Linked DNA regions of Homo sapiens. The protein of the gene in region 3 purifies or fractionates together with the protein of the main gene of each other region. This does not show direct contact. Each region holds a gene or a part of one and is shown on either strand. Other genes may lie near its edges. The genes, in order: TRDN, VIPR2 and LEMD2.

Region 1 (3,652 bases), about 90 Mb from region 3:
TAACTGAAAGATCTTAAGGGTCATTCAAGAAACTGAAATGCCAACAAAGTCTTTTTTAAAGACAACAATTAGTAATGCAAGTGTAAAATTATCGCATTGGTGTTGACTAACAGAAATAAAACAATGAAATCCATTAGAAGATAACTGAAAGACCTATAGTCTAATGATTTGGCCTTAGAAAAACTGAAAGTGAAGAAATTCAGATATTGGCTCCTGTTTATCTTAAGTCAGCGATAATTCTACTAGTTTTTAAAGCCCTTAAACATATCATGGGAAATTCAAAGGGCTATAAATAAAAATATATATGAATAGATATATAAATTAGAACATATATATATTACACACATATATTCTTAATTTGATATTATCCGTATTTTGGAAGAGGGAACTGTGATGCAAATAACTAGTCTGTGGATCATTCAAGCATCTTTTAAAAAGCAGTAATAATGTAGCACATAATTTGTGGAAAATTGTTCATAATAGATGCTGAATATTGGACATTCCTTTTTGTATGTGACTACACATAACCACTATACACCACAGCAACTCTACTGCAATGTTGGAATCCTCTATGTCATTTGCTAATGCACTGTGTAGCCTTTATTGTCACTCATGTTAAAGAATTTGATGAAGGCCGGGCATGGCGGCTCATGCCTGTAATCCCAGCACTTTGGGAGACCAAGGCGGGCGGGTCATGAGGTCAGCAGATCAAGACCATCCTGGCTAACAGGGTGAAACCCCATCTCTACTAAAAATGCAAAAATTAGCTGGGCGTGGTGGTGCATGCCTGTAATCCCAGCTACTCAGGAGGCTGAGGCAGGAGAATCATTTGAACCAGGGAAGCGGAGGTTGCAGTGAGCCGAGATTGCGCCATTGCACCACAACTTGGGCAACAAGAGCAAAACTCTGTCTCAAAAAAAAAAAAAAAAAAAAAAAAAAGAATTTAATGAAAAAATGTAATCAAGTTTCTTGACTTTGGTACCCTAAATGATGATTTCAGGCTAAGCCAAGATAATATCAGAAGGTCCCATTGAGAGAATGAAAATGATAATGCCAGATGCTGGTTAGCTTGCAAACCAAAAATCATCTGTGGTATCGCACTTAATTGACTACGCCAGCACTTCCCAAAACACTGTTTCTCAGATACTTCAGATATTTACAGGAAGATGTTGATACTGTATTAGGTATTGGAGAATATTCTCATGGCCAAATTCATTTGGCAACAATAAGCTAACCTGGTCATTTAGCTTGGACTTTCTCAAAGCTGAAGTGTATTGAGAATTTTTAAGAAGGGGAATTATGATACACACATTATTCAATATTGTTTAATCATAAAATTCTCATACAAATATTACTCAATTACTCTATAAACTTTTTTTTTTTTTTGAGATGAAGTCTTGCTTTGTCATCCAGGCTGTAGTGCAGTGGCACGATCTCGGCTCACTGCAACCTCTGCCTCTCAGTTTCAAGGAATTCTCCTGCCTCAGCCTCCCAAGTAGCTGGGATTACACGCGCCTATCACCAAGCCCAGTTAATTTTGTATTGTTAGTAGAGATGGGGTTTCACATGTCCATAAACTTTCAACATCTTTGTGGCTTCTGTAACTACACTCAGGGGATTTTCTTCTTCCTATAAATCATTTCTAAACCTCCTTTGCTGGTTTCTGCTCTTTCCTGCAGTAAACTCATATGTTTCTGTGACTGAAACCAGCAGCTTTCTGCGGATGACTTTAAATTGAAATCATTCCAGAATTCCACACTGGAATGTTTATTAGTGTCTGTCTGGAAAGAAAGTTTCACTGGAGTGGTCAACAGCACCTCAATCTCATGCAACTCATTCACCTAAAAAACACTTCTAGAGAGTCTATGTTGACCTGGGCTCACAGCTAGTTGCTGGAGCTCTAAAAATCAGCATAATAATAAAACTACCTGAATAAATTTTAGCACAGCAAAATTAAAACCGTGCAATATCTGGCTTCCTCCTATCTCCCATGTTACAGCACTTTTCCAAAAATTTATTCCTCTACTGGACTGCTTTCTTTCTTTTGAATATTTTATGTATTTTTCCATGTGTCAACTGTTGTCAGACTGCATTCTCTATATTTTCTATATTTTTCCACATATTTAAATTTCTTTATTTCTTTTTTATTTATTTTTGTCTTTTTGTTTTTTTGTTTAGATAGACTCTTGGCTCTGTTGCCAGGCTGGAGTGCAATGGTGCAATCTTGGCTCACTGCAACCTCTGCCTCCCGGGTTCAAGCAATTCTCCTGCATCAGCCTCCCGAGTAGCTGGGATTTCAGGTGTGCACCACCAACATCAGCTAATTTTTGTATTTTTAGTAGAGATGGGGTTTCACCATGTTGGCCAGGCTGGTCTTGAACTCCTGACCTCAGGCGATCCACCCGCCTCGGCCTCCCAAAGTGCTGGGATTAAATTTCTTCATGGTCAATTCACATGCAAAAAAATGGCTCTCCCATTTGAATTAATAATGTCTTCCCATGAGCTTCCATTTTTCTGAATTTTTATTAAATTATACATTTTATTCTTTATTATATATCTTGAAATATAGATAGTTTGATCTATCTGTCTTCCCTACCAGACAGACAGTGCTTAGGGGCAGGAATTCTATTATTATTTTTGTATCACCATAGTGTCTAGCACAATGCTTCTTTCAGAGAAAACAGAGGATAAATGTATACTGGATTAGCAATTTTGATGGAGAGAGTAAATATTCCACTATACTCAGATCATATGTATAATATAGTGATATAGAGACTGCATTATGTAAATATGTGTTTAGAAATAAACTTGTCTAAACCTGTTAAACTTGCCAACTTTTTTTTTTGTTTATACTAATTTGTATGAAATTGTTATATTTGCTTACTCTAAATGACAGCTATCTACTCCTTGTAAGTTACAGTTGATTTAACCTTAACTTTATAGTATGGAACTATAGATGTGTGAAATTCAGATTTCTTTTTAATGCCATTATAATTTATAAGTGGGCAATGATTATTTTCTAAGAGGTAGAACCACATATATAGCCAACTCATTATAATCATTGACTTTAAGTATAAAAATAATAAAATATTTTCTACTATTTTAGACACTCTTCAATCACATTCACTCTGGAAATAGATAACTTTGCCTCATAGTAGAAAAAAATGAGTGACAACTAAACAATGATGTGGCTATAATAAAGAAAATATCATGAAACTAAAGCAACACCCAACTTCTATTTACTTTTGAGTACACATTCTTCAATTTTGTGCCAAAATATTTTTCCTGATTTTTCCCTAAAATAATTTAAGTGACGAAATTTATTAAGGAATGAAAAAAACAAAAAGTATTGCCATGGGTATTCAAATCACCCAGTTTTATTTAGGAAGGCATTTTATTCATGACTTTTGTCAAATGGAAAACAAAATGGCCTAATCAAAAAAAATGACATCAGCATATTTGATTCAATCTTGGAATTAGCGTGATCCATTAGCTACTGCATCAGATTCAGAATGTCTGATGCCAAAGTATTAAATAGAATAGTATCCCTCAAGAAACATACTACACATGTTGGGAGTTAGAAAATAACAAATTTTCTCTCTCATTCCATAAAGAACTGCAAACTGCTTAACTTTTTTCTCTGCTTCAGTTT
Region 2 (3,652 bases), on a different chromosome or scaffold from region 3:
CCTCCCCAAATCCATCCCTGTTTTCTAAGGTGGGAGAAAAGGGAAATGCAGGCCAGGCACCCTCCTAGGCTGGGCGGCAGGGTTCCTGCCATGGTACAGCTCTGTGCACAGCCGCCCTTCCACCCCCGGTCAGTCTGAGCCCGAGGCACCTTCTGGGCTGGGCCAACCACTTCCACACCAAGCCAGTGTTTAGTTTATACTTGAATTTTGGTTTTTACCTTTTTAAAAAAAAATAAATTCTTGATATAAATTTATGGAGTCTTTGCATTACTTTATAGATTCCCCGGATCATCATGAATTAGCTGGATGACTGGGGGTGACTGGCTGAACGTCTGCCCTGTCTTCATCTACTGAAGGGAGATCACAATGCCATCTTCATGTAATCACGTGGGCAGGAAACGCTTTCTGAATTTTTATTAAGTACAAGGCCTGGTATTAGGGCTGGCAGTAGACACACGGCCATGGACACATGGCCATGTCTGAGGGGGAGACAGAATTAAATGTAAAATAAAAAATACTGTGTGGTCAAGGAGAAAAAGACAGGCTGTATAACATGTAAGTGGGCGGATGCTTAAACAAGCAAGTTCACTGGAGAGGACTTTCTTCTGGCCTTGAAATAAAAGAAATGGTGCCTGACTTCCACAGTTGCCAAGGCCAGAAGTGCCCCTGCTGAGTCCTCCCAGGTCATCAGGTGCAGAATCACACCCTATCTAGATGGCGGGTGTTTTAAACCACCAAATTTTGGAGTGATTTGTTACTTCGCCAGGGAAATGCTGTCCAGGGCCTCTCTGAGCCTTGGGCAGGAGCAGAGCCCTGGGGCCCAGCCTCGAGGTGTGACAGTGGCGGAGGCGGAGTCGCCGCACCTCCAGGGCCTTCCTGGCAGCGTGGGGGTCTCCTGTCTCCACACGGCATCCCCATCAGGGACGGCCAGGCCGGGACACACACTCACTTGTACTGAGACTGGTCGTTGCCGCCGACATCTGGGGATGTTAACTTCTGCAGCAAAATTCGTATAATACTAATGAAAAGGACAAAATTGACCTGCACAAGAGATAATAAGTTTGTGAAACAGACACGTGGATCCCTAATTTGCCCTGAAGTCCACCTGATTTCGACCCTCCCCTCCGCTCCCTCAGTCCCTCCCTCCTTCCCTGGGAACTGCCTCTGGGGGTCCACATGCCTGAAGAGGTCCTTTTCCGGGAAGGCTGAGTGATGCGTGGAATGGGGTCAGTTCTATTTAATAAAGGATGGCAGGCTTGCTGTCTGCCCAAGTGTGTGATTCCACAGATAATCCACATGTCAACAGGGACTACTTACGATGATGGAAATTAAAATCGGTATTCGTATGACCCACCAGGGCACACTGTGGTCGTTTGTATCCCAGCAACTGTCAGAGAGAGATGGGAAATCAGGTTACCACCAACCACTTTCGCAAGACAGGTACAGAAGAATGAGCGCCTGCCCCTCCCAACTTGCCCACTCCCCTCACCGTGGAAGCACAATTTCTCTGCACTGACAGATCGTAAAGGAATCTGTCCCAGGGAGTGATTGTGTTTTGTTTCATGCTTTCAAAACAATAGTCGGCTTGTGGGGAGGAGGAATGGAGGTGCGGCCCCAGAAGCCAGGACAAGGGCAGGAGGGCTGCTGACGCCCTCCACTCTGAGCATGAACGTGTGTCAGCCCCATTCAGCTGAAATCAGGAGAAAAGAACCTTCCTCCTGAAAATTAGCTTCCCCTCACCTCCCGAATGGTTTGCATGTATATGGCAAAGGGTTTAAAACGTCCTTAGAGCCACCAGCTCTCCAGCTCATAGCATTTTGTTTTGATTTTCAGCGCATGGGGTGTCTCCAGCAGGAAGCTGTGACCCCTGGCTTGTAAAACGCCTCAGTGATTCTCCCCAGGGTCCACACCCTGCGCTGGAAGTCTGCAGCCCTCCCATAAAGCAGAATCTCCATTGCAGGCTTGGGTCCATGCTTTCCCTCGGGGGCCGAGGGCAGGAGCCTTCAGGCTGGTGCAGTCTCAGACTGGCTGAAGGGGACCAAGGGGAACCAGTCCTCAAAGCTGCTGAGTCCTCCCAGGTCATCAGGTGCAGAATCACACCGTAACTAGACGGTGGGTGTTTTAAACCACCAAATTTTGGAGTGATTTGTTACTTAGCAGTGGGTAACTGATGCACACTGAGGCCCTTTAAAAGGCAAGATATTTGTGCTGGAACCACGCGTGCTCATGTCTGGGCCGTGGTCTCGCTCAGGGAGAGCATAGTGGAAAAGCGCTCTGGGCCGCATGAGCCAAGACCAGTGCTTAGGAAGTGCCGGGGGGCCCTGCAGCCACCATCACCTGACCTTCCACTTTGCTCCGGGTAAACAACATGCAGGGCACTTGGCTTTCTTCTGTGGACATCGCTGTGCCCACCGCAGGGGCTGCCCCAGTCTCTGCCTGGCTTATCCCAATCTCAACTATGCTGCAAAACCTGGCTCACTTCCTGTCTCCTGCACGGGGCTTCCTCCAACACTCCAACCTCACAGGATTTCTCCCCATGAATCGCCCAGATGCTTCCTGCGTGGCTGTCGGTTGGCCGCAAACGCTCCCTGTCCTTCCAACCAGGTAACCTTCTGGCTTCCAAAGGACTTCATGTTGCCAGATGTTGCCGGGCCCGTTTTCGAGGTTGCAGTCTGGTCATGGACTCACCCGGTGTCTTCTAAGTAGAGCCTGGCCGCAGTCCATGCACCGATGCAGACGGTGGGGAGGCCTGCAGAGAGACGCCTGGTTACACAGGTGGAGCGGAGCGGTGTGCACGCACACAGGTGGGTGCCTTCACCAGCAAAACCCTCAAGGACACGCTTTCTCACGGGAATATTAAGTGCAATCTCTTGTTTAAAGTCTTTGTAAATATTTACAAGTTTATGCTCATGCCTTAGTAAGCAGTGAAGATAATTAAACACACGCTTGAGAGCTGAGAATCTGAGACTTGCCATTCCTCATGAGAAGGGTTATTACTGGAGGCCATGGAGTTGAACGTGCGGAGAAGGAGATGTGTTCACTGATTTTTGCGACCACCCACGGAGCTATCGGCTACGTTTGCCTCATCCTGTCCATGAGGATGTCCCAAATTTGCACCCCTTTCCAACCCTGGGCAAGGCAAGGCTTCCGCTACCTGGTGTGCCTCTCCTCTCTGATCCCCACCCTCAGTGAAAGGTGAAGTGGGTAGAGGCGGAGGAGGAAACCGTTTTGTTACTTGTTAACAGCCCAGTTTGAATGGGGGTACAAGGGGCCAGGAATGGGAGTATTTTAAACTAGGTTCCTGGTTACCAGAAATATTAATGTGTTGTTTGTAGGAGCCTCCAGTCATCCTGGAAGAGCTCTTCATGATATGACCCTGACATGCATTCTACGGGGGCGGCAAAGTGTTTTCTGAGCTGAAAATGTTTGCGTTGTTTGGTCCGATGGGATGGGATGGAGGGTTTGTGGGTGGGAAGGGGCACACTTACCCCATCCGATCAGGAGGTAGGCCAGGAAGCACCTTCTAGGGGGGAGCATGGCCACCAGGAGGGTGTGGAGGTAGAGCCCCTCCACCAGCAGCCAGAAGAAGTTGGCCATGATGCAGTACTGCAGGAAGACCAGGCTCAGCTTGCAGCCCACCTGGAAACCGCAA
Region 3 (3,652 bases):
GAGGCCCAGCCAGCCAGAGCACAGGCTTTCTCCCTTCACCCTGGAGCTCTCAAGTAACAACCCCCTGAAGGCACATGGACCAAGCTGCTCCCCATCCCGCCACCCGAAACACCATCCCTGCCCCACCTCCCAGGTGACAGACTCCCTGGCGTGGCCATGCCCCAGCCCACCAGCCCCACGCTTGTCAGCTGGGCCTGACAGCTGCTGCTCTTGTTTTCTATTCATGAAAACTCAACCCTTCTCCCCGTTTCTGCCAGCACAACAGGGCAGAGTCTGGGCTATCACCCTGGCTTCTCCCCCTCCCTTTAAAGGAAGCCCACATTTTCCTGCGAGCCGAACTCCTCTGAAGAGTATGGCAGACCTTTGGAATCGTGTCAGGACGAGACTGAAAGTCAAGGCAAGTGTGAATTCAGCACCGCAGGCCTGGTGACCCTCCTGTGCCTCTGGAGTGGGCTGTCCTGGGACAGGCTGACCGGGAACAAGTCCCCGCCCGGGGCTTATCGCTCTGAGTCAGAGAAGGAAGAGGGCTTAGTCCATCTCCACACCAGCATGTCCTCTCCTGCAACGCGGTGGGACTCCGTCTGGATCCGGGATTCGTTGGAGGCCAGGAACTCCACAGCTCGGTCCCAGACACGCTTCATGCGCCTCCTGCAATGAGAGGGACGGGGCTCTGCCTGGCACTGCCGAGGTGAGCCAGCCTGTGGATGCCCCTCCTACAAAGGGCACACATTTCCAGGCTCTGGCATGGAATTTATGTAAGAGAGGAAAAGCTGGCAGGTACTAACATGACAACTGCAGAGGAGAAAAACGTCTTGGGCCATAGAGAAATGATTCCTCAACCTTCACTGATCCAAACACATTCAATTAAAGGGAGCTAAAGGGCCGAGGTGTCTGGAGCACCCCCAGGTCTCCAGGTGTGCAGGGCTGTGCTAGGCTAGCTGACTCTTGCTGGGACCTGTTGCCTGCGCAGCCCTTGCCAAGCCAGTTCCAGTACCCCGCCAACTGCATCTTGATGCTGCTCTGGGTGGGCTCATTGAAGAGTGAGCACTGGGCTGTTTCATCTAAGCTCCACAGCACTCCAGGGGATGGGATGAGCTAAGCATCAGACGGGGGAGGCCAAGAAGCTGGAGCTGCTCTAGGGAACCAGAGCCACAACGGAGGGCCCCTTCAGTGGCCAGAGTCCCTTCTCTGCTGGGTCTCTAGGGCCTTGCACCCCCCTGGACAGCCTTCCCCTCATCTCTTCTTCCCCCCTTCCAGACTGGACAAGAAGGTTCCAAAGCCATGGGGGAGGGTCACTTTGATCTTCTCCCTTTGTGAAGCATGGTATTGCACAGCCCCCAGCCTTTTCTCATCACTGCAGCCCACCTCCCCATGACACCACACGTGGAAAGACAGTGACTGTGAGTGTGTACGCATGGGAGCAGAAGGGGAGGACAAACGGAGGTGGCCAGTGAGTCAGGAGGCGGGGGGGGGGCTAGGGCTTCCCCAGGGGTCAGGACCTGTCACCAACCAAACCCCATGGGCCTATTCAGCAGCCCCAACTTGGCTGGTCTGGCCGAGGCCACACATTCCCTGGGGACTGAGCTCCAAGGTGCTGGGTCCCTGAGCAGGAAGCGGCCAGTGTTGAGTGGGCAGTGTCTCACTCCAGCCCCTCCTTCCCAGGCCAGTTCTTCTCATCTCCCTCAGTCTTTCCCAAGCAGGCCCTCATCTACAGGGCAGACCTGACTGGCTAGCCAATGTCTCCTGACGTGGGGAGCTTGGCCTGGACTGACTGGGTGGCTTGGGAGGTAAGTCAAGAGAGCAAACAGAGCATGGGCGTCTGGGGTTCACATGGCTCTGACCCTGAGGGCCGGCTACCTGAGTGGCAGCAGCTCTGGGTATCTATGCTAATGCACGAAGGCTTGGGTGGTAGCTCCGGCTGCAGGCAAGCTGCAGTGCCGTCTCATGCTCTTATTTAAGCAAATATGTGTGTGGAATATCATTTAAGCCCAAGGCATAATGGCTACCCTTGGATGATGCCCACGTGCTAGGCACTGACTTTTTTTTTTTTTTTTTTTTTGAGATGGAGTCTCACTGTGTCACCCAGGCTGGAGTGCAGTGGTGTGATCTCAGCTCACTGCAACTTCCGCCTCCCGGGTTCAAGTGATTCTCCTGACTCAGCCTCCCGAGTAGCTGGGACTACAGGTGACTGCCACCATGCCCGGCTAATTTTTGTATTTTTAGTAGAGACGGGGTTTCACCACATTGGCCAGGCTGGTCTCAAACTCCTGACCTTGTGATCTGCCCGCCTTGGTCTCCCATTTTTTTTTTTTTTTTTGAGACAGGGTCTCGCTCTGTCACCCGGGCTGGTGTGCAATGGCATGATCTCGGCTTACTGCAACCTCCACCTCTTGGGTTCAAGTGATTCTCATGCCTCAGCCTCCTGAGTAGCTGGGATTACAGGTGCATGCCACCATGCCCGGCTAATTTTTGTATTTTTAGTAAAGATGGGGTTTCACTATGTTGCCCAGGCTGGTCTCGAACTCCTGACCTGAGGTGGCCCACCCACCTTGGCCTCCCAAAGTACTGAGATTACAGGCATGAGCCACCGTGCCTGGCTACTAGGCAGTGACTTAATGAACTTTGAGGCCACCACCCTGATACCAACCCCCCTTCCCTTAGGGCTTGTCACTACCTAATATCACATCTTTTCCTTATGCATCTTGTCATCTGTCTCCTTCCTGAGAACAAATGCTCCAGCTGGACAGGGATTTTTGTTTCTTCCACTTCCTGCTGTCTCCCTGTGACCCAGTAGGGTGTCTGGCATGTAGTAGGTGCTCAATAAACATTTGTGGAGGAACTGAATGAATGAATGAATGAATGAATGATAGTCTCTTCGTCACAGCCCTGTGCAAGGCAGCGGGATCACCTGCATTTTAGGATAAGGAAACTGTGGCACAGGTTGACTGAGATGCTCATTGTCACGATACTCCTGCCAGGGCCAGGAATTGGGTGGGAGTTTGAGTACCCCAAGTCACCCTCCCTGGGAGGTAGAGGGCCTCACGCTGAAACCAACAGCAAGCGCTCCTCAGAGCAAGCACAGCCCATGCTGCTGTGAGTCTGCTCACTCTAAACTTCCTGCCTGCCACCTTTCCAGGGGTGAGGTGAGCATGACAGGCAACAAGCACCTTCATGTTTAAGATGGACCTTTTTTTTATTTTTTTAAGAGATAGGGTCTTGCTCTGTTGTCCAGGCTGATGTGCAGTGGCATAGTTATAGCTCACTGTTGCCTCGACCTCCTGGGCTCGAGTGATCCTCCTGCCTCAGCCTCCTGAGTAGCTGGGACTACAGGCATGTGTCACCATGCCCACTAATATCTATTTTTTGTAGAGATGGGGTTTTGCTATGTTGTCCAGGCTGGTCTTGAACTCATGGGCTCAAGCAATCCTCCCACTTTGGCCTCCCAAAATGCTGGGATTACAGGTGTGAGCCACTGTGCCTGACTTAAAGTGGACTGCTAACGGCTCTATTTTTCTGATTCCTCTTGGGTTGCAGATAGGGATGATGTTGACAGTAGAGCCTGGTGGCGGGAGCACGGAAATGCCACTAGCCATGGGACTCTTGAGCACATTCCTCTACTTCCCTGTGCCTCAGTTCCCTTATAGGTAAAATG

Evidence for each region.
Region 1: the proteins of LEMD2 (region 3) and TRDN purify together in Homo sapiens (co-immunoprecipitation; one large-scale study listed by IntAct). This does not show direct contact.
Region 2: the proteins of LEMD2 (region 3) and VIPR2 purify together in Homo sapiens (co-immunoprecipitation; one large-scale study listed by IntAct). This does not show direct contact.

The regions. Positions count from the first base shown.
Region 1 is NC_000006.12:123,504,332-123,507,983, forward strand, and holds part of TRDN (triadin), read right to left. Parts: intron 1-3,652. UniProt on the Homo sapiens protein: Contributes to the regulation of lumenal Ca2+ release via the sarcoplasmic reticulum calcium release channels RYR1 and RYR2, a key step in triggering skeletal and heart muscle contraction.
Region 2 is NC_000007.14:159,033,264-159,036,915, forward strand, and holds part of VIPR2 (vasoactive intestinal polypeptide receptor 2 isoform 1 precursor), read right to left. Parts: intron 3,640-3,652; coding exon 3,489-3,639; intron 2,750-3,488; coding exon 2,689-2,749; intron 1,388-2,688; coding exon 1,318-1,387; intron 1,042-1,317; coding exon 950-1,041; intron 1-949. UniProt on the Homo sapiens protein: G protein-coupled receptor activated by the neuropeptides vasoactive intestinal peptide (VIP) and pituitary adenylate cyclase-activating polypeptide (ADCYAP1/PACAP).
Region 3 is NC_000006.12:33,772,131-33,775,782, forward strand, and holds part of LEMD2 (LEM domain-containing protein 2), read right to left. Parts: intron 649-3,652; coding exon 498-648; 3' UTR 1-497. UniProt on the Homo sapiens protein: Nuclear lamina-associated inner nuclear membrane protein that is involved in nuclear structure organization, maintenance of nuclear envelope (NE) integrity and NE reformation after mitosis.